Linked DNA regions of Homo sapiens: region 1 is linked to region 2. Evidence: fine-mapped expression QTL. A gene starts in region 2. The other region holds a variant in brackets. All regions are shown on one strand. Distances are between the middles of the regions. Region 1 holds the start of LYPD4 (LY6/PLAUR domain containing 4). Region 2 holds the start of PSG8-AS1 (PSG8 antisense RNA 1).

The links. PIP is the estimated chance that this variant, and not a neighbour inherited with it, causes the effect.
Region 1: its variant is fine-mapped to the expression of PSG8-AS1 in prefrontal cortex (ROSMAP, PIP 0.95).

The regions. Positions count from the first base shown.
Region 1 is chr19:41,835,956-41,848,728 of GRCh38, forward strand. LYPD4 (LY6/PLAUR domain containing 4) reads right to left here and starts at 8,728. Exons shown (of 5, transcript NM_173506.7): 1 at 7,623-8,728; 2 at 3,264-3,450; 3 at 2,926-3,069; 4 at 1,980-2,306; 5 at 1,119-1,390. The coding sequence starts at 3,330. The coding sequence ends at 1,188. DMRTC2 (DMRT like family C2) reads left to right here and starts at 9,087. Exons shown (of 9, transcript NM_001040283.3): 1 at 9,087-9,146; 2 at 11,470-11,697; 3 at 11,781-11,926; 4 at 12,497-12,573. The coding sequence starts at 11,474. The variant CAAAAAAAAA/C (reference allele first, on the strand shown) is at 6,809.
Region 2 is chr19:42,818,677-42,831,129 of GRCh38, forward strand. It overlaps PSG8-AS1 (PSG8 antisense RNA 1), which reads left to right and starts at 3,187. Exons shown (of 4, transcript NR_036584.1): 1 at 3,187-3,237; 2 at 4,137-5,099; 3 at 6,256-6,668; 4 at 7,757-8,202.

The DNA.
Region 1 (12,773 bases), 980 kb before region 2:
AAGGTACCCTACGTCACTGCCTCTAAACCTCACAAGATAGTGGGAGAGAATTAAACTGAGCTCCCACACATAAATGGCCTGACACAGCGACTCTCCATTCCCTACTTCCCACCCCTAAACACACAAACTCTGTCTCACACACACACACACACACTCATTCACTCAACTTAAAAAGGCATGAAGTTGCAGGGTGAGTGTATCTGCTGCCCCCTTATGGCCAGAGAAAAGAATCACACTGTTCTCCTTTCCTAGGAACCCAGAACCAAAACTCCGGGTGAAAAACAACCACCCCAGCCCTGCTCTTTCCTCTCTCCCCTATTTGCCAACTTACCAAAAAAAAAAAAAAAAAAAAAAAAAAAAAAAAAAAAAAAACAACTACTGAGCAGATAAAATAATCTCAAGTCTCCAAATCTCTCAATGAAATTGCCTCAGCAGGGACAGAAATCTGCAGGGGAGGTAAGGGAGATGCTACTTTGAGCAGGTTTCACCTCCTAGAGCTAGTTTCTTCTTTGCAAAATAGAGACAAAAGCTGCCTCACTGAGGTCTTGTGAGGATTAAATGATATCCTGTATGTAAAACACTAGCACAGATACTAGCACAGTGTCTGGCACACATAGTAGATACTCAGTAAGTAATCCCAGATAATAATCACCCTGGTGGTCAAACACAGTCGCTCCCATGTAAAATCCCAGCTACTGGGGAAGCTGAGGCAGGAGGATCACTTGAGGCCAAAGATTCGAGACCAGACCGGGCAACATAGTGAGACAGACCCCCATGTCAAAAAAAGGAAAAAAAAAAAAAAGAATTGGCCTGAGGAGGCTCTTCTCTAACTCATAAGACCCTTCCTTTTAAAGAGGAGGAAACTGAGGCCCATAAAAAGGGAGAGATTTGGCCAGGGTCTCGGAAATCAGACCCTGATTAGTAGCTGAACCCAGGCTGGAGCTCAAGCCTCCAGAGGAAGGGGAAGGAGAAAAGGAATATTTCAGCTCCCCCAGTTGCTGGGCAGGACACTGTCACTTTGCCAGGCTCCTCTTCCTGGGTCCCCACCTCCCTGGACATGCTTGGCCTTCCTCACACCTTCCTCACCCCTGCTCTCTCATGGACCACAGGACAATGCAGAAAGGGAACTCTGCTATTTTATTTGTTATGTGAAAGAGTCTGGGTGCTTGTCGGGTGCAGCTAGATGGTCAGTCCCTGAAGGCAAACAGGAGGCCTAAGACGACACCCCAAGCAGGATCTTGCCTGGAGGATGCTGCACCAACAATCTGAGACTTCTCTAAGATGTTGAGGACCTCAGTCACTTTGATGCTCCCAATATGATGAAAATCTGCTAAAAGCTGGTTATGTTCACGAGCACACCCCATGAGGAGGAAGGTGGTATTGAGAAACCCTGTAAGGAAGAGAGGGAGAAGTCAGGAACACTTTCAAGACTCAAGAGCCCTGCCTTCAGCCAGGTGCAGTGGCTCACACCTGTAATCCCAGCACTTTGGGAGGCCGAGGCAGGTGGATCACTTGAGGACTTAAGGCCAGGAGTTTGAGACTAGCCTGGCCAACATGGCAAAAACCCATCTCCCTTAAAAATACAAAAATTAGCCAGGTATGGTGGCACATGCCTATAATCCCAGCTACTTAGGAGGCTAGGGTATGAGAATCACTTGAACCTGGGAGGCAGAGGTTGCAGTGAGCCGAGATCGGACCACTGCACTCCAGCCTGGGCAACAGAGCAAGACTCCCATTTCAAAAAAAAAAAAAAGGCCCCTGCCTTCTCCCCAGAGGCCCCTCACAAACCAGAACACCTGCTCTCCCATGAGAGACTTAGGCACCAGGCGCCTTCCCCTTCCTCCTTGGAATTCATGTGCCCTGTCCCTTGCAACCCCAATCCCATCTCTGGATCCCACCAGCCTCTCTGAGATGTGAAGGTGCTGGACAATGCCTGGCAGAGAGTAGGCATTTGATAAACAATATTCCTCTCCTCTCACCTGCCTGAAATTTTAAGGTGGAACTGTAACACGTAGAAGCAGCCAAGGGGCAAGAATTAGTGGTGACAAAATTTGGGAGGCAATCCTTCATGTGCTCGCCCACACAGGTCGGGCAGCTACAGGACGCAGATGTGATAGACTTAGGAGTGCTGGCCTTGAGTTTCACAAAAGGCTCCAAATTGGTGAGGTTGTTGCAGAGATAAGACCGGCAGACGCGACTGTAGGAGGCAATGGACACTCCGGGTGGGGAAACAAGGTAGGAGATTTGCGCAGGGTAAGACGAAGACGAGCTGCAGCCTTTAAAGCCCACGACTCCCCTTGCAGTCCCTGAGGAGCAGAGGATTGAGAGAGCTCAGATCAGTGTCACTGGCCTCACCCAGAGTCCTCCCTCCCCCCAGCTCTTTCTGCACCCACCCTGCCTGTCACAATCTGTGCCTCCCTCCCCAACCCCTGTGTCCACTCAGTGCAGCTGCACAGGGCTCAGATGCTGGGGTCTCCATCTGGATCTCCTCATTCTTCCACTGCAGGACCTCCCCCAGCCCCCACTCCTCTCTCCCTTGTGCCCTCCTCCAGGGATCTGTCCACCTCCATTCTACCCACTTACCCAGCCCACAACACAACCAGTGGGGCCCTGCCCCTCTCCTGCCAGTGTCCTGACATTATCCAGATATAAATGATGGCCAGGCACAGTGGCTTATGCCTGTAATCCGGACACTTTGGGAGGCCAAGGTGGGCAGATCGCTTGAGCTCAGGAGTTTGAGACCAGCCTGGGCAACATAGTAAGAACTCCCCATCTCAAAAAAAATTAAAAAAAATATATATACATATATATATATATGTATAGTAACTATGTGGAATTCTAATCTACAGTCCCTCGGTGCTGGGAGTGGAGCTGGGGGTCAGAAGAGCAAGCAAAACGAAATTGATCAAACTTAGACTGCTTCACCTGTCTCAATGAACACTAGCGTCTCCTCGCAGCCCTCTTGCAGCTTACACACCATGTTCCTCATCAGAAGCCACTTCCAGTTATGGAAAGCAACAGCTCTGAATCTTGAGGCTGTTGCTTCATAGCACAAAAGAGCTCCAGCCCCTAAAAAGAGAATGCTCTCCCAGTCATTGGCCCCTCATATCATCTTCTGAGCCCGTTAACTGCCAACCAAGAGTTCAGCCCCCACAGGTCCTGTCCCCAGCGAAACCTAGATACCCAGCCCTCGTTCCACCAGTGACATGAATCCAGCCTCCCACCTTTCTGGGTCTTATAGCATCCAGCCCCACAGGACATACGAGGCAGAGTGGAGATGGCCCCTAGAAGGCAGAACAGCTGCACAAGTCTCAAATGCTGGGGTCCCATGGCCCTGTGTCTGGGTCCTGGGTGCTAGAGGTCAGTCTGGAATCAGTTTCAGTCTGGATCCCAAGCTCAGTTCCCATCAGTCCCCGAATTCTTTGTCCACCTGTCTCTGGGTCACTGTTTCTGGAGCAGAAAGTTGATTGCATCAGCTTCTAGGACATAGGCTCCCTCAGACCTTCTGGGTCACAGGTCTTCCCATCTCCACTGTCTGCCCTCCAGTCTAACCTGCACCATCCACCATCTTAGCTTCTCAAAGCAGGACTCTCACTCTCCCACTTAGGTCCTCCCATTGGACAAGGTGCTGAGCAGAGAATCCTGGCTTACTGATATGCAGGCTGTTCTCCAGCCAGAGGCAATGAGATCAGAGAAACAAATAGATGTTTCAAACTCGTGTGTGTTGTGTGTGTGTGTGTGTGTGTGTGTAAGTTAACATATCACTAAATAACCCTTGGTTCAACATGGAAATTTAAAAGTATTTAGAACTGAGGTCAGGAGCAGTGGCTCACGCCTGTAATCCCATCACTTTGGGAGGCTAAGGCAGGTGGATCACCAGAGGTCAGGAGTCCAAGACCAGCCTGCCAAAATGGTAAAACCCCATCTCTACTAAAAAATATAAATTAGCCAGGGGTGGTGGCACGAGCCTATAGTCCCAGCTACTCAGGAGGCTGAAGCATGAGAATCGCTTGAACCCAGGAGGCGGAGGTTGCAGTGAACCGAGATCGCGCCACTGCACTCCAGGCTGGGCAACAGAGACAGAGACTCCATTTCAAAAAAAAAAAAAGTATTTAGAACTGAATAATAATAAACATATTACATAACACACACATTCACACACAGACATAGACACAGACAGACACACACATACACACACACACACACACATAAGTGCATGTAAAATCTGCTGTAAACTGAATAAGGTCTGAAGTCTAGGTAAGAGTACTGTACACCAGCCCAGGCATCACGACAAAATGCCATCTCTACAAAAAATACAAAAATTGGCCAGGCATGGTGGCATGCACCTGTGGTCCCAGCTACTTGGGAGGCTGAGGTGGGAGGACCACTTGAGCCCCGGGGATGGAGGTTGCAGTGAGCTATGACTGTACAAACAGTATTGTACAAATGTCAATTTCCTGCTCATATACTATGGTTATATAAGATGCCCCTACAGGGAAACTGGAGGAAGGATCCAAGGGACTCTATGTACCACTTTTGCAACTTCCTGTGAGCCAACAATCATTTCAAAATTAAAGGGTTTTTAAAATATATACAGCCGGGCACAGTATCTCCCGCCTGTAATCCCAGCACTTTGGGAGGCCGAGGCAGGCAGATCACGAGGTCAGGAGATCAAGACCATCCTGGCTAACACGGTGAAACCCCATCTCTAAAAACACAAAAAAATTAGCCAGGCATGGTCGTGGACGCCTGTAGTCCCAACTACTTGGGAGGCTGAGGCAGGAGAATGGTGTGAACCCGGGAGGCGGAGCTTGCAGTGAGCCAAGATTGCGACGCTGCACTCCAGCCTGGACGACAGAGCGAAACTCCGTCTCAAAAAAAAAAAAAATAAAATAAAATATATACATCAAAATTTGAGACACAGCTAAAGCAGTATTTAGAAGTAAATTTATACTTTTAAATACATGTATCAGGAAATGTGAAGCATTAAAAAATAAATATATTCATGAACTAGTTCAAGAAATTGTATAAGGAGCAACAAAGCAATTCTCTCCTACCCAAAAAAGAATGGAAATAAGGATGATAGCAGAAATCAATGAAATAGTAAACAACAACAAACATTATTACAAAAAAGATCCATTCTATGAAAAGATTTAGTTAGTTCGCTGGCAAATCTGATCAAGGGAGAAGATGCAGGCCGGCACAGTGGCTCATGCCTCTAATCCCAGTGCTTTGGGAGGCTGAGCCAGGAGGATCCCTTGAGGTCAGGAGTTCAAGACCAGCCTGGGCAACACAGTGGCTTATGCCGGTAATTCCAGTGCTTTGGGAGGCTGAGCCAGGACTGCTCGAGGTCAGCAATTTGAGACCAGCCTGGGCAACACCTTGTCTATACCAAAAAAAAAAAAAAGTTTAAAAATTAGCCAAGCATGGGAGTGCCTGTAGTCCCAGCTACTCAGGAGGCTAATGTTGAAGGATTGCTTTAGCCTCAAATCACAAGGTCAGGAGTTCGCGACCAGCCTGGCCAACAAGGTGAAACACTGTCTCTACTACAAATACAAAAATTAGCCCGGTGTGGTGGTACGTGCCTGCAGTCCCAGCTACTAGGGAGGCTGAGGAGGGAGGATCACTTGAACCCGGAAGCCAGAGGTTGCAGTGAGCCGAGATCATGCCACTGCACTCCAGCCTGGGCAATAGAACAAGACCCTGTCTCAAAAAAAAAAAAAAAAAAAAAGTGAAGAAATGCACAAACCCAGCAATAACCAAGGAAATGCAATCTGTCAAATTGTACATCTATCAGACTGGTAAGGATCAGAAAGCTGGGAAAAGACAAGTGTTGGCAGGTATGTGGGGATAAAGGAACCCTTGGCCCCTGATGCTCATGGCATTATTTGGAGGGCTGGGGAATAAAACACTATTTCTGGACTCTGAGAAACAAAGGAGTTGAGAGTTCTGACCAGGATCTCAGGCCCAAAGCAGCATTGCAGGGGTCTGACACTACATGGTCAAATTGGGTTTATAAATACCCATTTCCAGTATACCCTACATAGGTATTACAAAAATGTCCACCTTCATCTACAAAGGAACATGCACAATAATGCAGCATTTTTTTTTTCTGAGACTGGGTCTCGCTCTGTTGCCCAGGCTGGAGGACAGCTGTGCTCACTGCAGCCCCCACCTGCCAGGCTCATGCAATCCTCTCACCTCGGCCACCCAAATAGCTGGGACTACAGGTGTGCGCCAACACACCCAGCTTTGTAGAGATGGAGTTTTTCCATGTTGCCCCAGCTGTTATCAAACTCCTGGGCTCAAGCAATCCACCCACCTCGGCCTCCCAAAGTGCTGGGATTACAGGCATGAGCTCCCATGCCCAGAGAATGCAGCATTATTGTGGTGATGGTAGGTTGAGACAATGGGAGCTTCCCTCTCTGAGACCAAGTGAATGCAAAACATGCTGGGGATGTACGCTATGGAATATCACGCAGGAGTTGGAAGAAGTTGATTAGATGTACACAGGATGTGAGGCAGGGTACAGTGGCTCACGCCTGTAATCCCAGCACTTCGGGAGGCTGAGGTGGGCGGATCACCTGAGGTCAGGAGTTCAAGACCAAGCTGGTCAACATGGCAAAATCCTGACTCTACTAAAAATACAAAAATTAGTCGAGTGTGGTGGTGGGAGCCTGTAATCCCAGCTACTCAAGAGGCTGTGGCAGCAGAAGAATTGCTTGAACCCAGGAGGTGGAGGGTGCAGTAAGCCAAGATCACACCATTGCACTCCAGCCTGGGCAATAAGAGTGAAACTCCGTCTAAA[CAAAAAAAAA/C]AAAAAAAAAAAAAAAAAAAAAAAGTACACATCATGACAGAATGACAGAATGTGTACATGGATAGATTGTAAAATCACAGTGCTGATTATTACAAATAGTATATAACATAATATCACTTGCATAAATTAAAAACTCAAACAGAGGTCGGGTGTGGTCGTTCATGCCTGTGATCCCAGCACTTTGGGAGGCCAAGGCAGACAGATCACTTCAGGCCAGGAGTTCTGGACCAGCCTGGTTAATATGGCAAAACCCCATCGCTAAAAAAAAAAAAAAAAAAAAAAAAAAAAAAAAAAAAAAAAAAAAACCCCAACAACAACACTACACACATCCTGGGAGAACACACACACAAACCAAAAGATACATATTAACCACCTTAGAATGAGAATTGCCTATAAGAAGGTTAGGGAATGAAAGTGGGGAATTGGTGGAAAATAACAGTGTAGGAGGGGGTACAAAGATCACTGACCTTGGCCTCAGAGACCCAGGTTGGAATCTTTACCCCTTCATTTACTAGCTGTCCAATTTGTTGAACTCAGAGCCTACTACCTTCTTTATAAAATGAAGTATAATACATCTCATAGGGTCATTGTGAAGATCAATAAAATTATTACCATAAGTATTAGGCAAATGCTAAGCTCTTTATAATCGTTGGTTACCCTGTTCCTCTACCACTATCCCTCCCTCCCACACACACTTCCTCTCACTCTCTCTCCACTACCTAAAGGATCAAGTTCAACCTCTTTAGCTGGCCTTTAAGCCTCCCCCGACCACACCCCACCCCACCCCAGATAAGCGCCACCCAACCTTTCCAATTTTATCTAGGACAGCTCCCCTGCCCAGCAGTCCAGCTAGAGGTCACGTCGGCCACCCTTTTCTGCCTGCAATGCCTCAGACACACATGCTCTGTAACCCAGAAATCTGTGGCCAAGAAAGGTGCCAAGACCCGCAGAAAAGCTGGGACACAGGAAAGAGAAACGAAGGCTGACAACAGATCTCACGGGGGTGAGGGAGATTAGGCCAATCAGAGAAGACAGCACACGCCAGCCTCAGATGCAGAACAACTGGACCTGGACCTAACAAGCTGAGTACAAGTGGAGACGCAACCAGAAAAGATTGAAGTGAAATCCTCAAGCAAAAAAAAAAAAAAAAAAAAAAAAAAAAAGGATGGAGCAGTAGTCAGAGGGGATGCCACCCCTACAAAAGACAAACAAATTGATGGAATGGAACCTTGCAGGGAGAGAGAGGACCAGCAGAGAGAGGGAGGCGTAGGAAAATGAGGAGTGGGGCACAAAGGTGGGGCTCTCAGGGAGAAGAGGAGTCGATTTTAGAGGGGGAGAAGAAAAGGACACAGAGCTGGCTGTACAGAGAAAAGGGGCCAAGGCAGAGAAGATGGCGGGATGGTGTGAGACGGAGTTCACAGAAATACCCAGAGAAGGCGACGATTACACAGAGGAGCCCCCAGAGGGGCGAACTCTTGAGGAAGATGAACGCGGAGGGTGGAGCCAGCCAGAAATTCAGAAAAACTAGAGGCGTCCCCGGTAGCGAAGGAAGCCGGGAAGGGGCCAGGCTATCAGGGCATGAAGCACGGGAGAAAATGGGTCCGAAGAGGGAGAGCGTCCGAGAGAAAAGGAAAATCAGAGATTAGGAAAATCACAACCGACACAAAGACAAGAAGAGACACAAGGAAAGGGGTGCAATCTGAGGAAGGAGGGCCCGGTAAGCAACCCGGTAATCACAGCGCTGGGAGAGAACGCATAAAAGAAGGGTAGCTCAGGAGTTGTGGGGCACCGGAAGAGACATAACAGAAAACGCAGGCCTCCACTCAGCAAAAACAAGCCACGCGCGAAGTCGAGGTACAAGGCAAGGGAAGGCCAGAAACGAGGCAACCCGTGCACAGACCGGGCTTGGTCAACGCCCCAGGGGCGGGGCCAGGCGGGCCGTTCCTGGGGGGCGGGGCCAGCCTCGGTCCAATAAGGGGTACTCGACGCCCCATTGGCCACCTGCCTCGAAAGGGGGAAGACAGTCTGGGCGGGCAGGACGTGCGGAGGGAGAGGCAGCGGTGGCGCGAGGCTCAACTCGAAGCGCTATTGGTGGGACTGATAGTCTTGTGCGCCAAGAAGCTGGCAGAAGGGAAGGGGCGGGACATCAGTTCAGGATCTCAAACCGCATTGGTCGTCTGCCTCGGCTGAGAGAGGCGATGCTTGAAGTTCATTGGTCTTTGTGAGACAGGGTAAGAAAAGCAGCGCGAGCTTGGCGGTTCCTCTGGCCACTTTCTCACAGTGTCTTTGGGCGTCTTCTTGACTGAATCTGACTCCATTGGAGGCTGTGGTAACCGTGAACTAGCTGCACGAACACGGTCCCTCCTGCCTTTCCGTCCTCCTCCCTCTTAGCCGGACTCCCTAACCCAGGCATCCCCTCTCCTCCCCCTCGCGCCCCTCCCGCCCTCGCGCCCCCTCTCCCCTTCCCTGCCTCGCGGGCCCCTTGGCGCGTTCCCGGTTCCCCACTCGCTCCCTGGGGCACGGGAAGGGGGGAGGGGGACATGCATGAAATTAATTGTTGGTAGTGGCCACAGGAGCAGGAAGCGCTGGACACAGTGACTTCACATGTTTACACAAAAACCTGAATAAGGTGTGAGCGCAAGAGAGACATTAGTGCCCCAAGGAGAAGGTTTTTGGCCCAGATCAGGGCCTAGCACATGACAGGGGCTCAGTAACCATTTGTGGAATGAATGAAGGAGTGAAGGAAAATAACTTGAAAGTGGGGCAGGTGGCGGGTGCGGTGGCTCATGCCTGTAATCCCAACACTTTGGGAGGCCGAAGCAGGCAGGTCGCTTGAGGCAGGTCAGGAGTTCAAGACCAGCCTGGCCAACATGGTGAAACCCCATCTCTACTAAAAATACAAAAATTAGACGGGCGTGGTGGCACAGGCCTGTAATCCCAGGTACTCGGGAGGCTGAGGCAGGAGAATTGCTTGAACCCAGGAGGCGGAGGTTGCAGTGAGCCGGGATTGCACTACTGCACTACAGCCTGGGCTACAGAGTGAGACTCCATCTCAAAACAAAAAAAAAGAAAGAAAGAAAGTGGGACAGGGGAGCCAAGCATAGTGGCTCCAGCCTGTAGTCCCAGCTACTGGGGAGGCTGCGGCAGGAGGATTGCTTGAGCTCAGGAGGTGGAGGCTGCAGTGAGCCATGATCACGCCACTGCGCTCCAGCCTGGGCAACAGAGCGAGACCCTGTCAATAAAAAAAAAAAGAAAGTGGAGCAGGGAATCCATGAGAATAAGGTAATTATTGGGGGTGCAAGAGAGGGTTCTGATTTAAAGGGGTACAAGAACAAAATAAGACTAAAGGAATGCAAGGAGGCAGTTGCTTTGCAGGGCATAGATGAGACTAAGAATTGAAATTGAACTAAGAATTGAAAGGGGCATAAAACTACTGGTAGGCATTGGATGAATGCATGAGAGTGGGGTGAGCATTGTTGAAGAGGATGCCAGGAAACACTGTTGGGACGGAACAGGGTGCTTGTGAAAAGGGGATGTAGGACTCGCTGAAGGGGTATGTGAGGACATGAGTAGGTTGGAACCTAGGATGTGTGTGTGGGTGGGAAAGTGTTTGGATTGAAAGAAAAGAATGTTTGAATTGAAAGAATACAGAATGTCGGGCGCAGCAGCTCATGCCTCTGATCCTAGCACTGTGGGAGGCCAAGGCAGGAGGATCGCTTGAGCCCAGGAGTTCGAGACCAGACCAGCCTGGGAAACATAATGAGACCTTGTCTCTATAAAAATAAAAAACAATTAAAAAAAAATTTTTTTTTTGAGACAGAGTCTTGCTCCGTCACCCAGGCTAAAGTGCAGTGGCGCGATCATGGCTCACTGCCAGCTCTGCCTCCCGGGTTCACGCCATTCTCCTGCCTCAGCCTCTGGAGTAGCTGGGACTACAGGCACCCGCCACCACGCCCAGCTAATTTTTTGTATTTTTAGTAGAGACAGGGTTTCACTGTGTTAGCCAGGATGGTCTCGATCTCCTGACCTTGTGATCCACCCGCCTTGGCCTCCCAAAGTGCTGGGATTATAGGCTTGAGCCACCGCACCCGGCCTAAAAATTTTTAAATTAAAAAAAGGGGGGACGGGTGCAGTGGCTCATGGCTGTAATTCCAGCACTTTGGGAGGCCGAGACAGGCAGATCACTTGAGGCCAGGAGTTCGAGACCAGCCTGGCCAACATGGTGAAACACCATCTCTACTAAACATACAAAAATAAAAAAAAATAGCCGGGCATGGTGGCTCTTGCCTGTAATCCCAGCTACTCAGGAGGCTGAGGCAGGAGAATCGCTTGAACCCGGGAGGTGGAGGTTGCAGCAAGCCAAGATCGTGCCACTGCACTCCAGCCTGGGAGACAGAGTGAGACTCCATCTCAAAAAAAAAAAAAAAAAAAAAGAAAGAACACAGAAGAGGAAGAGGAGAGGGGTTTCTGAAGAAGGAAGATACCTGAGAAATGTCATGGGGTAAAGAGGGGAGAAAGCTGGGAAAGAAGCCAGAATCAGGGCGGGGTCTAAAGAGGGGCAGGATGGAGACCTGCAGGTGTGGTCTCCAGGGCAGGAGGGTTGTTAGGGGCAGGCCCACCTGGCTATGCTTACCTTCCACTCCTGCCCCTAGATCCATGGAACCCAGTGACATGCCTGCTGGCTACCACTGCCCCTTAGACTCTGCCCCCTGGGATGAGACCAGAGACCCCCAGAGCACAGAGCTGATCCCCAGGAGAGCCATCAGCCGCTCTCCAACCTGCGCCCGCTGCCGCAACCATGGTGTCACCGCCCATCTCAAGGGCCACAAGCGCCTCTGCCTCTTCCAGGCTTGCGAGTGTCACAAATGTGTCCTCATCCTGTGAGTATGAGGTCTGGGAGGGGAGGAGGATGAGCCTCCTCCAAAGGGTGGCTGACCTTTGACTTGCAACTCCCCACTTTTAGGGAGCGCCGCAGGGTCATGGCTGCCCAGGTGGCCTTGCGTAGGCAGCAGGAGGCGCAGCTAAAGAAGCACCTGATGAGGAGAGGGGAAGCCTCTCCCAAAGCTCCCAACCACTTCAGAAAGGGAACCACTCAGCCACAGGTCCCCTGTGAGTGTCTCTGACCAGCGATGGGGCAGGAGTTTGGGTACAGGAGGCAGGTATGGGAAAAAGAGGCCCAGTCCTGCTGCTGAATTGGTGTACGACCTTGAACTAAGGGTTTCTACTCCCTCGGCCTCAGCTGTCCCAGCGTTGAGAGAATGCAGCGAGTTCTGTGGGTCAAAAATGGGCTAGAGGCCGGGCACAGTGGCTCACGCCTGTAATCCGAGCACTTTGGGAGGCTGAGGCAGGCAGACCACGAGGTCAAGAGATCGAGACCATCCTGGCCAACATGGTGAAACCCCGTCTCTACTAAAAATACAAAAATTAGCTGGGCTTGGTGGCGCATGCCTGTAGTCCCAGCTACTCGGGAAGCTGAGGCAGGAGAATCACTTGAACCCAGGAGGCGGAGGTTGTAGTGAGCCAAGATCACGCCACTGCACTCCAGCCTGGGCGACACAGCAAGACTCCATCTCAAAAAAAAAAAATGAGCTAGATGGGGGAGATGAGAACTGTCTGGGGTTGGGGTAGGATAGGGGTCAGGAGAAAGGGCTCATTAGAGCTCTCCCTGGTCCTTCACAGCTGGAAAGGAGAACATAGCACCCCAGCCTCAGACCCCCCATGGGGCAGTCCTGCTGGCACCGACACCCCCCGGGAAGGTAAGGAGAGGCTGGGGCCTGAGAAAGTGTCCCCCACCCTAGTTCCTACCCAGACCCTTTCTTCTGTGCCCTCAACACCTGGGTTCTAGCCCCAGCCCTGGTTTGCTATGTAATCTAGTCAAATCACTGCTCTTCTCTAGGCAAAATGAGGGGAAAACGAGGGCCTCCCAGCCCCAAAGTTTTGGGGTTCTGCCCGTATC
Region 2 (12,453 bases):
CTTCCACCCAGTCCTTCACATTGTTCTCTTTTGGTAGTTTCTTGTCATTTCCTCCTTTTATTATCAATAGAGCTGCTGTGAACATGCATGTACAAGTTTCTGGGTGGACATATGTTTTCATTTTTATTGGGGGGGGTAGACATCAAAGAATAGAATTGCTGTGTTGTATGATGAGTCTGTGTTCTAACATTTCAGAAGCTGGACTTCAACTGCTTCCTGATTTCACCTTCCACACCATTTCTGTAGTGAGGCCCACTCCTTGGCCTTATAAGACCTGAATTAAGTTAGGTGCCCAGAGCCGTTCTGTCATCGACTCTGTTCTTTCCCTTGCTAGCCTGTGTAATAATTGGCAATCAGACCTTTACATGAGCAATGGTTTCATATGTCTCCCCAACTATATTACAAGTTCCACAGGGGCAGGGCTATGTCTATCTCCTTGACCTCTGTATCTGCGATGCCTGGCAGAGGGCTATGAACACTGGTTACGCTCCATAAACACTGGGAGACAAAGAAGGGTGTCAGTAGAGTTAGTTTTTTTGCTTTTTTACCCCCAGAACTCTTAGAAAATAATTTGAGCTATTCCTTCAAGGAAGTCCTGGGGCAGGTGATCATTCATAGATGACATGAGGGAGTGCACAGCACATGAGTTTGCAGGAAAATGCAAACCCCACGTTGAAATTTGATCCCCAATGTTGGAGATGAGGATTTACAGGGGGGTGTTTGGGTCATGGGGGCGGATCCCTCACGAATGGCTTGGTGCTGCCCTCATGGTAATGAGTGCGTTCTCTTTTCAGTCCTGCAAGAGCTGATTGTTAGAAAGAGCCTGGCACCTTCCTCTCCTCTTTCTCTTGCTTCTTCTCTCACCATGTCATCTGTGCACACAGCAGCTCCACTTCCCATTCCACCATGAGTGGAAGCTCCCTGAGGCCTCACCAGAAGCATATGCTGGTGCAATGCTTCTTGTATAGCCTGCAGAACTGTGAGCCAAATAAACCTCTTTTCTTTATAAATTATCCAGCCTCACTCAGGTATTCCTTTATAGCAATGCAAAACTGACTGAGACAGGGTATCAGGAGACCTAGCTTTGCCTGAATCTGAGAACTTCATCAGGACTTTTGGAACAATTTAGCCCACAGGTCCAAGGCTGATTTTTGTCACAGTGAAGTTCAGGTAGTAAGAATTCTCACTGGTGGCTGTTGAGGATGGTGGTGGTGGGGATGGGTCATATGGAGAATTAGCAGTGGGAGACTAGAAATTAAAGTGGAGAAAGGGAAGAATTAAAAGTCAAAAACAGTGTGAGGGAGGAAAGCAATGGATATAACACCTCAAATCTTTATCCTTGAGAGGCCTTAAAAAATCTACTTAATAATAATCAGATGCTATTCTATAAGTACTTTGAGACTAGACATGTGATGACTTTTAGGAACCTGTACTGTGGCTGAAAATGCATGCAAATCTAGTTGACTCAGATCCAGTCTTAACTGGCTCATAACTTGCTTCATATGCATGACTGTACGTTAGCAAGGAAATGAGAGAGAATAACAGCACATCACATAGGCATGAAAAGTATTTGCAAAGCAGCAGTTCTCAAAAATGACATTTTGCAGTGTTTTCCAGAAGCAGATTCAGAAAACTGAAGACCAAAGTAATGATGGAGCCGTCTCATGCCTAGATGAGCAGAAGCATACCAAAGGCTTAGTATTTCCCCAAGTAGTAGGCACCTCAAACTTATTTAAGGAAAATACTCTTCTTGATGAAACAGATACTGCAGTCGAAGCAGGAATGTGTTTGGTGTGCTGCCTTAAATAGCATGGGTAGATGTTCAAACATGTTAGGACTCGCTGGCCCTAGGAAAGACCCGCAAGTAGATACTTTCCACACCAGGAAAGTGACAATGAAACACCAAACACCTTTTCTCCTCTAATTACCAAGGAAAATATTTCTTTCCCAATGGTGGAAGACAATAATGTTGGGAATGATGAAGTTTTCTGGAGTGTGAAGTGGATATGTCTTATAAGTTTAATCCACAGATTCACCACTTCATAAGTGGATAATCGAATTGTGCCTCAGTTTCCTCAGACTTGGGGATATTAAGAGAACCCTCAGTCACCACAAGGTGGGTACCAGCATAAGAAAAGAGTGTAGCAAAAGCCCAGGGGTGCATGTTCTTAAAGTGCCTAGTGTGGGATTAGAATGACAAGTGGTAGATGACCTACTTGTGCAGAAATTTAGAGTTATTTTGTGATTTTCAAATGATCATGGGTGCTTTCCATATGCTGTCCAGACTAGGGGTGCTGCAGCTAGAAAGGGAAGAAGGTTTCCATATTTCCTGAGATTGGAGTCACATCCTCTCACCAATGCACTCACCTGCTGACTAACCAGTGTACTTCTGGGAATTGCAAATGCATGAAATGGCACCCATTCTAGACTAGTCGCGGCAGTGTTGGTGATGGCCACAGACCAGGAACGACCTTGACGTTTATCCGTAGGGAACTGGGTCATGAGCCATGATCCACATCATGGATACTGTGCAGCTGTGGCAATGAATGAGGTATCCTTCTGTCTGTGCACCGGGAAAGGTTTCCAAGATACACTGCACAGTGAGAAAAACAAGAAGCAGAACAATGCACGGTGTGCTACCTCTTGCATTACAAAGGAGGAAATGTAAAATTAATTTACAAATGGCCAATAAACACATGAAAAGATGCTCAACATCACTAATCATTAGGAAAATAAAAATCACAACTACAGTGGGATACCACCTTACATCCTTTACGATGGTTGTTCCCAATAAAAAAAAAAAAAGGAAAACAGAAAAGAAAAGTGTTGGCGAGGAGGAATTGGAATGCTTGTGTAGTGTTTGTGGGTTTGTAATATGGCACAACAACTGTGGTCATTTCTCAAAAAATTAATCATAGACTTACCACAAGATGCAGCAATTCGGCTTCTGGTGTATTCCAAAAAGAACGGAAAGCAGGGGCCCCAGCAGATATTTGCATGTCTTTGTTCATAGCAGCATTATTCACAATAGCTAAAAGTTGGAAACAAGCCCAGTGTCCATCCATCCATGAATGAATAAACAAAAAGTGGTCTATGCGTACAAACAAATGGGATTCAGCTGTAACAAGAAGGGTGATTCTGATGTGTGCTTCAACATGATTAAGCCTTGAGTTCTTTCTGCTAAGTGAAATAATCAGACTCAAAAAGACAACTACTACATGATTCCACTTAACAGAGGTGCGTAACGTCATGAAATGCATAGGCAGAAAATGAAAAGGTGGTTGTCAGCGGCTGGAGGGAGGGGGAAAGAGGAGTTGGTGTTTAATGGGTACAGAATTCCAGTTGGGGAATATGAAAAAGTTCTGGGTGGGGATGGACAGTGGTGGTGGTTGAACAACAACCTAAATGTACTTCCTGCCACTGGATGTACACTTAAAAGTGGTTAAAATGGGCCGAGCGAGGTGGCTTGCGTCTAATCCCAGCACTTTGGGAGGTCGAGGTGGGCAGATCATGAGGTCAGGAGATTGAGACCATCCTGGCTAACATGATGAAATCTCCGCTCTACTAAAAATACAAAAAATTAGCTGGGCATGGTGGCATGCACCTGTAGTCCCAGCTACTCAGGAGGCTGAAGCAGGAGAAGTGGTTGAACCCGGGAGGTGAAGTTTGCAGTGAGCTGAGATCATGCCATTGCATTCCAGCCTGGGTGACAGAAGAGGAACCCTTCTCAAAAAAAAAAAAAAAAAAGACAGAAAAAAAAGAAAGGAAAAAAATGGTTAAAATGGTGAATTCTATGTTATATATATTTCACAATAATTTACAATAATTCCTATTGTTTTGCATAAAACAGCTGTAGAAAGCTTTGCAGGTCATGAACAGCACAGCTGGCCACTGGGGCTGGCGTGGGGCTAGGACCTGGGTGCATAGGGAACAGGGATGAGACACAGGCTCTTCATGCCTGCACACATATACAGATACACACAGATGGAAATTACTGAGCCATCTAAATACAACACCTATTCAAAAAATCAAACAGAAAAAGGAAATGTAATGGGGCTGAAGGATGAGGGTAGGTGGGGTGGCTGCTCAGGAGGACTGTGGAGGCCACATCGCCTAACCTTCGAGGCCTCTCTTAGCAGCTGGAGTGCATCCCGGGGACTTGGGAGCTCTGGAAAGAGGAGCAGGAAAGGGCCATGGCCGGAGGAGGCCTGAAAAAGATCATCTCTGCCACAGAGAAGAAGCTGGCTCGGATGCTGCTGGCCCCTATGGAGACAGGGAGACCCGGGGAGACAACTGTATTCATTCAAGGAGGAATGGGTGGTGATGCAAACTTGGGTGGAGGCCACAGGGTGCAGAAGACAGGACACAGCAGAGAGAGATGTAGGACATGGAAGGGACAGAAAGGAGTGACCACAGGACATAAAGGGGCAAGGAAAGTGGAAGCATGATAACATCTGCTGGGCATCCGGCTGAGGGGTTGGGTGCCTAGGGTGCCCTTCCCTAAGGGAGAACCCCAGGAGCAGATTCAGAGAAAACCGCCCAGCTCACTCCAGCAAGAATCAGAAAAGGACCGGTTAAAGGAGAGGGTAGGAAGGTCACCAAGCTCCAAGGGCCCTCATGAATCCGGCTTGGAGGCCACAGGGCCCAGGGCAAGGACAAACCACAGGCACAGGACAGCTCCGGTCAAGATCTTCTGGCTACTGCAGGAGGCAGAAACCACACCCTGCACCCTGCACTGCTGAGGCTGGCGCTGGAGTCCAGAAGCTTCTACACCAGAAGCTTCGGTCCCCCATCCCTGCTCAAAAAATTAAAACAAAAACAATAACAAATCGGTGTCATGCACCCTCTGCTTCCTGGTGCTGTTCGGGACCCTGAGTCTTTCACGGGAGCACCTGATGGGGAAAGCCTGGACCCGTGTCGGTGTCCCTCCTGCAAGGAGTGCTGGGAAAATGAACTTTCCAGCTTCCTCCTTGCGAAGGCAGAACATTCCCCATGTGTACTGGTGGCATTTAAAAACTGCAGGGCAGCCAGAGAACATGGACTGTGTTCCACCGGGAGAGTTCCTGGCGGGATGTCCCGGTGCAGAAGCCCGTCCCAAGGTGGGTATTTGAGCTGAGGAACTGAGAAGCCGGTTTCTGCCTAGAGTTAGAGATCCGAGAGGCATCAGCACATGGAAGGGAGGGAATCTACGATGCCTCGAGGGTGGGAGATCAGATGAACCAGGAGAGGCAGGGCCCGGGAGGAACCCCGGGGAGCAGCCTCCTTTAAAGCCTGGGGGAAGTAGCTTCAGAGAAGGTGGGGTAGGTTGGGTGGGGGTTGCTGGAAAAATATAATTAAGAAACAAATTTCTGCTCAGCCCAGAAACCCCCCTCACATCCATAGAAGTAAAAGAAACTTGTCTTATGATTGAGTAAGCATTAAGCCAAAATGTGATGCAATCTGCTAAGAGATGACAAAGACAGAAAGAAATCCCACCTTTGTATCCAGCCAAGCAGGTGCAACCCGTTACACACATGGTCTCCAGATAGATGGTGACTAGTTCCCAGTTGAGAGGACTCAACGGCACCATTTGTCACACGTAGTTCATCCTAAATTCACCCAGTAACTGTGTTGATTCTCTGTGTGGTTAATTGGCTTTATCCACAGGAAAAAGAAACCTCTCATCTATGACAGGAGGTAGTTTTGCAACTGGGAGTGAGATGCCCCCAGAACTGAGGTTCCTTCCTTCTCACAGAAACTGGGAGACAGGGGTGCTTTCTGCCCGGATGCCTGCCTTTCAAAGAGAGGTCTCCTATGGCCTTGAGGAGGAGAATTCTGGGTTGTGAGGCAGGCAAGATACTTATGTATGCTTTAGAAAGCTTTGCATACATCTTCAAGGGATAGAGAAAGAGTTTTCAATTACACCTCTTCTAAAAAAAATGATCTCAAAGTCCAGCCTAGGCAACACAGCAAGATCCTATCTCCACACACACAACAATAATAATAAATTTGCTGGACATGGTGGGGTGTGCGTGTAGTCCCAGCTACTCAGGAGGCTAAGGAGGGAGGATCACCTGAGCCCAGGATGTTAAGGCTGCAGTAAGCTTAGATGGCAGCACTGCACTCCAGCCTGGGTGACAGAGTGAGACTCTGTCAATGAATGAATGAATGAATAAATGAATGAATAGAAAATGCTCTGAGTGAAAAGAGGAGAGTCTCTTTATCTTTTTGCAACAGGCTAAACAAAGTTTTTAAAAATGTATATTTGCCTCACAGAGATTATTCCAGGAAAAGAAGTGGCCCTCAGTGTCAAAGGATGCAAAACTAACCTCTGAGTTCCTGGCAGGTTTAGCAATAAAGGAGGATGTTGCTGATCTCAGTACAAGCAATGTTAGAGAAAGGGGAAGATGGAAGTGGACAAGGACGAGTGAGTGGAAGGTGACAAATGGAAGCAAAGAAACGTATCCAGACCATTGAAGATGCTTGAGCGAGAAGAAAGAGGCGGTGGAGGGAATGGAAGCCCGAGGAAGTCATATGTTGCAATAAGGGGCCTCAGAGCACGTGTAGAGTGTGGAGCAGAGCCCTTGCAGAGGGGCTGTGGAAGGCTGGCAGGGTGCAGGTGGCCCCACTCTCCGTCACCCTGAGGAGTGTGTGGTCAGAGTTAAAGCTCAGTCTGTTTCTGGGATCAGGTAAGAGGTGAGCGTCCGGAGAAGACAGGCGGATCTTCAGATCCTGCAGACCTCCACCGTGCCCTCTGTCCCTCTCGACTGCTTTTTCTCCATCTCCATTGTCTGGCTCACATTGGTGTCACTTTTTCATTTCTCCCTGCCCGTCTTTTCTCTTTTCTCCTCTCTTTTTCTTAACCCTTGTACCTTTGGAAGTCCCACTAACAGAATTTAAACAGCTTTTCAAGTTGGTTTTTTGTTCCCAGAAATTGATTTTAGACTCTCCATGAATAATGTGGAAATCAAATGAGTATAAGCTGGTTCATCTCTCTGCAAATAAACAAATAAAATCTACATTCCAATGTTTCTTCTTCCAGAGTAGCCCGCACTTGATTTTTTTTTTAATTACTGTCACTTGCAATAGATTTTTAATTCCTGTAACCTGGCTACACAAATACCATGGGGCAAAAGCCTTACTTCCTGTGAGAGGAAACCAGGCTTGACTAGCCTCATGCTGGCTTTGAAGAAGTAAAATCAGGGGTTGATGAATTTGCATAGGGTAAATATCAAAGGTCAAAAGTAAACAATAGGTGGTAGAGGGAATACCCCAAATTATAAAAGAACAAACTGTTTAAGCCACAACAGAATTATCGTAGAAATAAACCACGGTCCTTCCTGCTAAAATATTCCACTTAGAATTGTAAAATATTCTTCTCAATAACTCCTGGAAGAGCCTACTCATAAATTAATGAGGCTGGGAGCAGTGGCTCACACCTCTAATTCCAGCACTTTGGGAGGCCTAGACGGGCAGATCGCTTGAGGTTAGGAGTTTGAGACCAGCCTGGCCAATATGGTGAAACCCCGTCTCTACTAAAAATACAAAAATTACCCAGGCATCGTGGCAGGCACCTGTAATCCCAGCTACTTGGGAGGCTGAGGCAGGAGAATCGCTTGAACCCAGGAGGTGGAGGTTGCAGTGAGCCAAGATGGCACCACTGCACTCCATCCTGGATGACAGAGTGAAACTCCATCTCAACCAAAAAAAAAAAAAAAAAGAAATTAATGAATGTAAGAGCATCTATGTTCCAAATGCAGTGTATTATTTTATGCAGGCTTTCACAAGCTCCAAAAGATTCACCGTGCAGAACTGGACGTTCTAGAGAAAGACCACGCCTCCTCCTGCAGGTAACTCTTCATTCAGGAAGCAGCTCTTGGCTTATCCCTGGGCTTAGTGGAATTGGAATACCTGACCATAGGACACCAAGGGCTTTAGGACCTGAGTGGCACATCGTGTCCTGGTGACATCTGAGTTACCTGGGGCGTGCACAGCAGCCTCCAGCATCCCAGGGAGAGCTGTGTATGGGGTCAGGCTCAAGCAGGTCCCAGGGCACCAGTGACCCAATGGGTGAATCAGACTCCCGTGGCACCTGCTCCTTCTGTATCTCCCTCTGCCATATATATGAGCTCATGGGAAGCACTGTAACCTCTTACAGAGGAGGAAAGTTCATGGACTTCTAGCTTCTAGAACTGTGATACAATAAACTCCTGTTGCTTATCTACTCCTCTGCAGTATTTTGTCATGGCAGCCCTAGCAAACTACTACAGGGACTGTGGGGGTTAGGATGACACCAAGCATCAAATGCCACTCCCTGTTCCATTATTATGTAATGTCCCTCTTTGTCTTTTTTAACTGCTGTTGCTTTAAAGTTAGTTTTTTTGATATAAGAATAGTTACTCCTGCTCACTTTTGTGGCCATTTGCATGGGGTGTCTTTTTCTACCCTTTTACCTTAAGTTCATGTGACACTTTATGGTTAGGGGAGTCTCTTGAGGGCAGCAGATACTTGCTTGGTGAACTATTATCAATTCTGCAATTCTGTGTCTTTTAAGTGGAGCATTTAGGCCACTTACATTCAATGTTAGTATTGAGATGTGAGGTACTGTTCCATTCATCCTGCTATTTGTTGCCTGAATACCTTGGTTTTATTCATTTATTTATTGTATTTGTGTTTTATACGTCCTGTGAGATTCATGCTCAAAGAGGTTCTGTTTTGATGTGTATCCAGGACTTGCTTCAAGATTTGGAGCTCCTTTTAGCAGTTATTGTAGTGCTGGCTTGGTAGTGGCAAATTCTCTGAGCATTTGTTTGTCTGAAAAAGACTGTTATCTTTCCTTTATTTATGAACTTTAGTTTTGCTGGATACAAAATTCTTGGCTGATAATTTTTTTTTTTTTTTTCTGAGATGGAGTCTTGTTCCGTCACCCAGGCTGGAGTGCAGTGGTGCGATCTGGGCTCATTGCAACCTTCGCCTCCTGGATTCACGCCATTCTCCTGCCTCAGCCTCCCGAGTAGCTGGGACTACAGGCGCCTGCCACCAGGCCCGGCTAATTTTTTTTGTATTTTTAGTAGAGACAGGGTTTCACCATGTTAGCCAGGATGGTCTTGATCTCCTGACCTTGTGATCCACCCGTCTTGGCCTCCCAAAGTGCTGGGACTACAAGTGTGAGCCACCGTGCCTGGCCTGATAATTTTTTTTTAAGGAGGCTGCAGGTGGGTATGCATGCTCATTTGAGGTGTTCTTCCCTTATTGAAGATTACTAAAATCACATGTGTTGAAAAGCATTTGGTATTATTTACTTAATTGATGAGTACCCATTTATTTTTACATTAATTTGATACCATGTATAAACAATATATAAACATAGGTATGGACATATACATATGTGATATGTGATACAGCATAGAACATATACTTGTGCACATAAAGATAGAGGGAGACAGAAATACTTCAGATTTTTGATTTTAAAACTTTATGCATGAACACATAAAACTCACTGTTAAAAAAAATAGCTGGATTTAAGTTGTGCTTTTGTAAATAGAAAAAGTTAACATTTATCTGAGGAAGCCCTTGCTGAGTTTTAGAGAAAGTAGGTAGTAAATTTACATCTCAAAGCACACACAAACACACACACACACACACACACACACACAGAGAGAAGGAGTTTGGGTGTGTTCAAGGAAGATTAAAAGTAGATGCCAAGGTAACACAAAAATGATAGAAATTTATAACAGGATTTTATAAGGAGACCAATTTTATTTCCATACATAGCTTTTATTTTGGTCTCTGTTTTCCAACTTTACTCCAGGAAACACACTACACAGGCTCCCTTCTTAAGTGCTGGTGGGCCACTGCACATGCAGACAGCCCACTTTAAGGGAAGAATCAGGGGAGAAGAGATGCAGACCCCAGAATTATGCCAACATACAAAAGCCTAAGTCAAAGGTCAAACCACACACTTGAAATCTCATCACCTGTTTGGCCCTGTTTTAAGTGTGCTTTACTTTCTTTAATTTCTGCTCTAAAGCTTTTAAATAAACTTTCACTCCTGCTCTAAAATTTGCCTAAGTCTCTTCTTCTGCCTTATGACACTTAGTTGAATTCTTTCTTCTGAAGAAGCAAGAATTGAGGCTGCTACAGACTTGTACAGATTTGCTGCCATTAATATAGTTTAGTGCCATTCTACATGATAGAATATATATATTCTTATATTTATATATATATATATATATAAAATTTATGTATTCATAGAGGCCTTGAATCTACATTCTTGCTGCACTTTATGTAAACAATCCAGGTATAAGACTAAAACTTATTTTGGAAATATATTGGTCCCATATGATTTCTATTTCATAAAAATGGGAGACAGGAGGGGGAAAATTATTTTTCAGAAGGAAACAACAGAAAAATGGTTATTACATTTTAGATCTGTTCATTTTTTTTAAATTTTGTTATTTACCTACAATTTGGACTGAATCCTAAATTTTTTCCTGGCTACAAATTTCAAAACTAATGGTTTCAGAATTTTCTTCCATTTTTCTTCCATTTTGGTATATTATAAATTAAAACTGTGCTTTTTAAATTTTTATCTTTTTTTAATTACACTTTTAAGTTCTGGGATACATGTGCAGAACCTGCAGGTTTGTTACATAGGTATACATGTGTCATGGTGTTTTGCTGCACCCATTAACCCATCATCTACCTTAGGTATTTCTCCTAATGCTATCCCTCCCCTAGTCCCCCACCCCTCAACAGGCCCCAGTGTGTGATATTCCCCTCCCTGTGTCCATGTGTTCTCATTGTTCAACTCCCACTTTTGAGTGAGAACATGCGGTGTTTGGTTTTCTGTTCCTGTGTTAGTTTGCTGAGAATGGTGGTTTCCAGCTTCATCCATGTCCCTGCAAAGATATGAACTCATCCCTTTTTATGCCTGTATTGAATTCCATGGTGTATATGTACCACATTTTCTTTATCCAGTCTATCATTGATAGGCATTTGGGTTGGTTCCAAGTCTTTGCTATTGTGAATAGTGCCACAATAAACATATGTGTGCATGTGTCTTTATGGTAGAATGATCTATAATCCTTTGGGTATATACCCAGTAATGGGATTACTGGGTCAAATGATATTTCTTGTTCTAGATCCTTGAGGAATCGCCACACTGTCTTTCACAATGGTTGAACTAATTTACACTCCCACGAACGGTGTAAAAGCATTCCTATTTCTCCACATCCTCTCTAGCATCTGTTGTTTCCTGACCTTATAATGATCACCATTCTAACTGGCATGAGATGGTATCTCACTGTGGTTTTGATTTGCATTTCTCTAATGACCAATGATGATGAGCTTTTTTTCCTATGTTTGTTGCTCACATAAATGTCTTATTTTGAGAAGTATCTGTTCATCTGCTTCACCCATTTTTGATTGGCTTATTTGTTTTTTTTCTTGTATATTTGTTTAAGTTTCTTGTAGATTCTGGATATTAGCCTTTTGTCAGATGGATAGATTAAAACTTGCAAGCTGAAACTCGACGACTTATGTAAACTTCTGGATAAATCATAGCAACTTATATATAAACAACCTTTGTGCCTGCTGATGTGTGGACTACACAAAAGGTACACATGAACACTGTATTCAGACTGCAATTCAGAAAAATGTGTCACATTGCCATTGCAATTGGAAGATGCTTCAGAAACTCTAGAAAACCTAGTCTATAGGGTTAGAGTGATGTTTGCCAAACGAATTGCTCTAATTGAAGCAGCTGTTGTGTGACTTTAATAAGGTTCCAGGATTATACTGTCCCTTTTTTGCTGTGACTTCCCTTTGCCCTTTTCTGATTTGTCTTCATCCCCTTTTCCATGGGGCATGACTTCTTAAGAATGAGCCTTCCTAGTGATGTAGGATGAGATGAAACATACAGTCACAAAGTCATGTCTTCTATGATGCTTTATCTGAAAGCTTTTGAAGAATTGGGGGGCCAGGTGTGCTGGCAGAGGCCTGTAATCCCAGCAGTTTGAGACTCTAAGGCAGGAGGATCACTTGAAACCAGGAGTTTAAGACCAGCCTGAGCTACAAAGGGAGACCACGTCTCTACAAAACATAAAACAAATCAAATTAGCCAGGTGCAGTGGTGCATGCCTATAGTCTCAGATACTTGGGAGGCTAAGGTGGGAGGACTGCTTCAGCCCAGGAGTTCAAGGCTGCAGTGAGTACACTCCAGTCTTGGTGACAGAGCAAGGTTGTGTCTCTAAAAGAAGAAAAAAAAAAAAAAAAAGGAAAGGAAAGGAACGGGGTAAACAGGAAAGCCAAAGATCTCGGGCATCTCCAGATGATTCCCTGAACAAATTGTTTTTTCTTGGCTTCAAAACCTTTCAAGATGTATATTTCTTTGTAAAAGAAGGACATGCCAATTGTAACTTTAAGTGAGCAATCCAAATCCAGCTCCTAAAACCGAAGTATTTTAACTCTCAT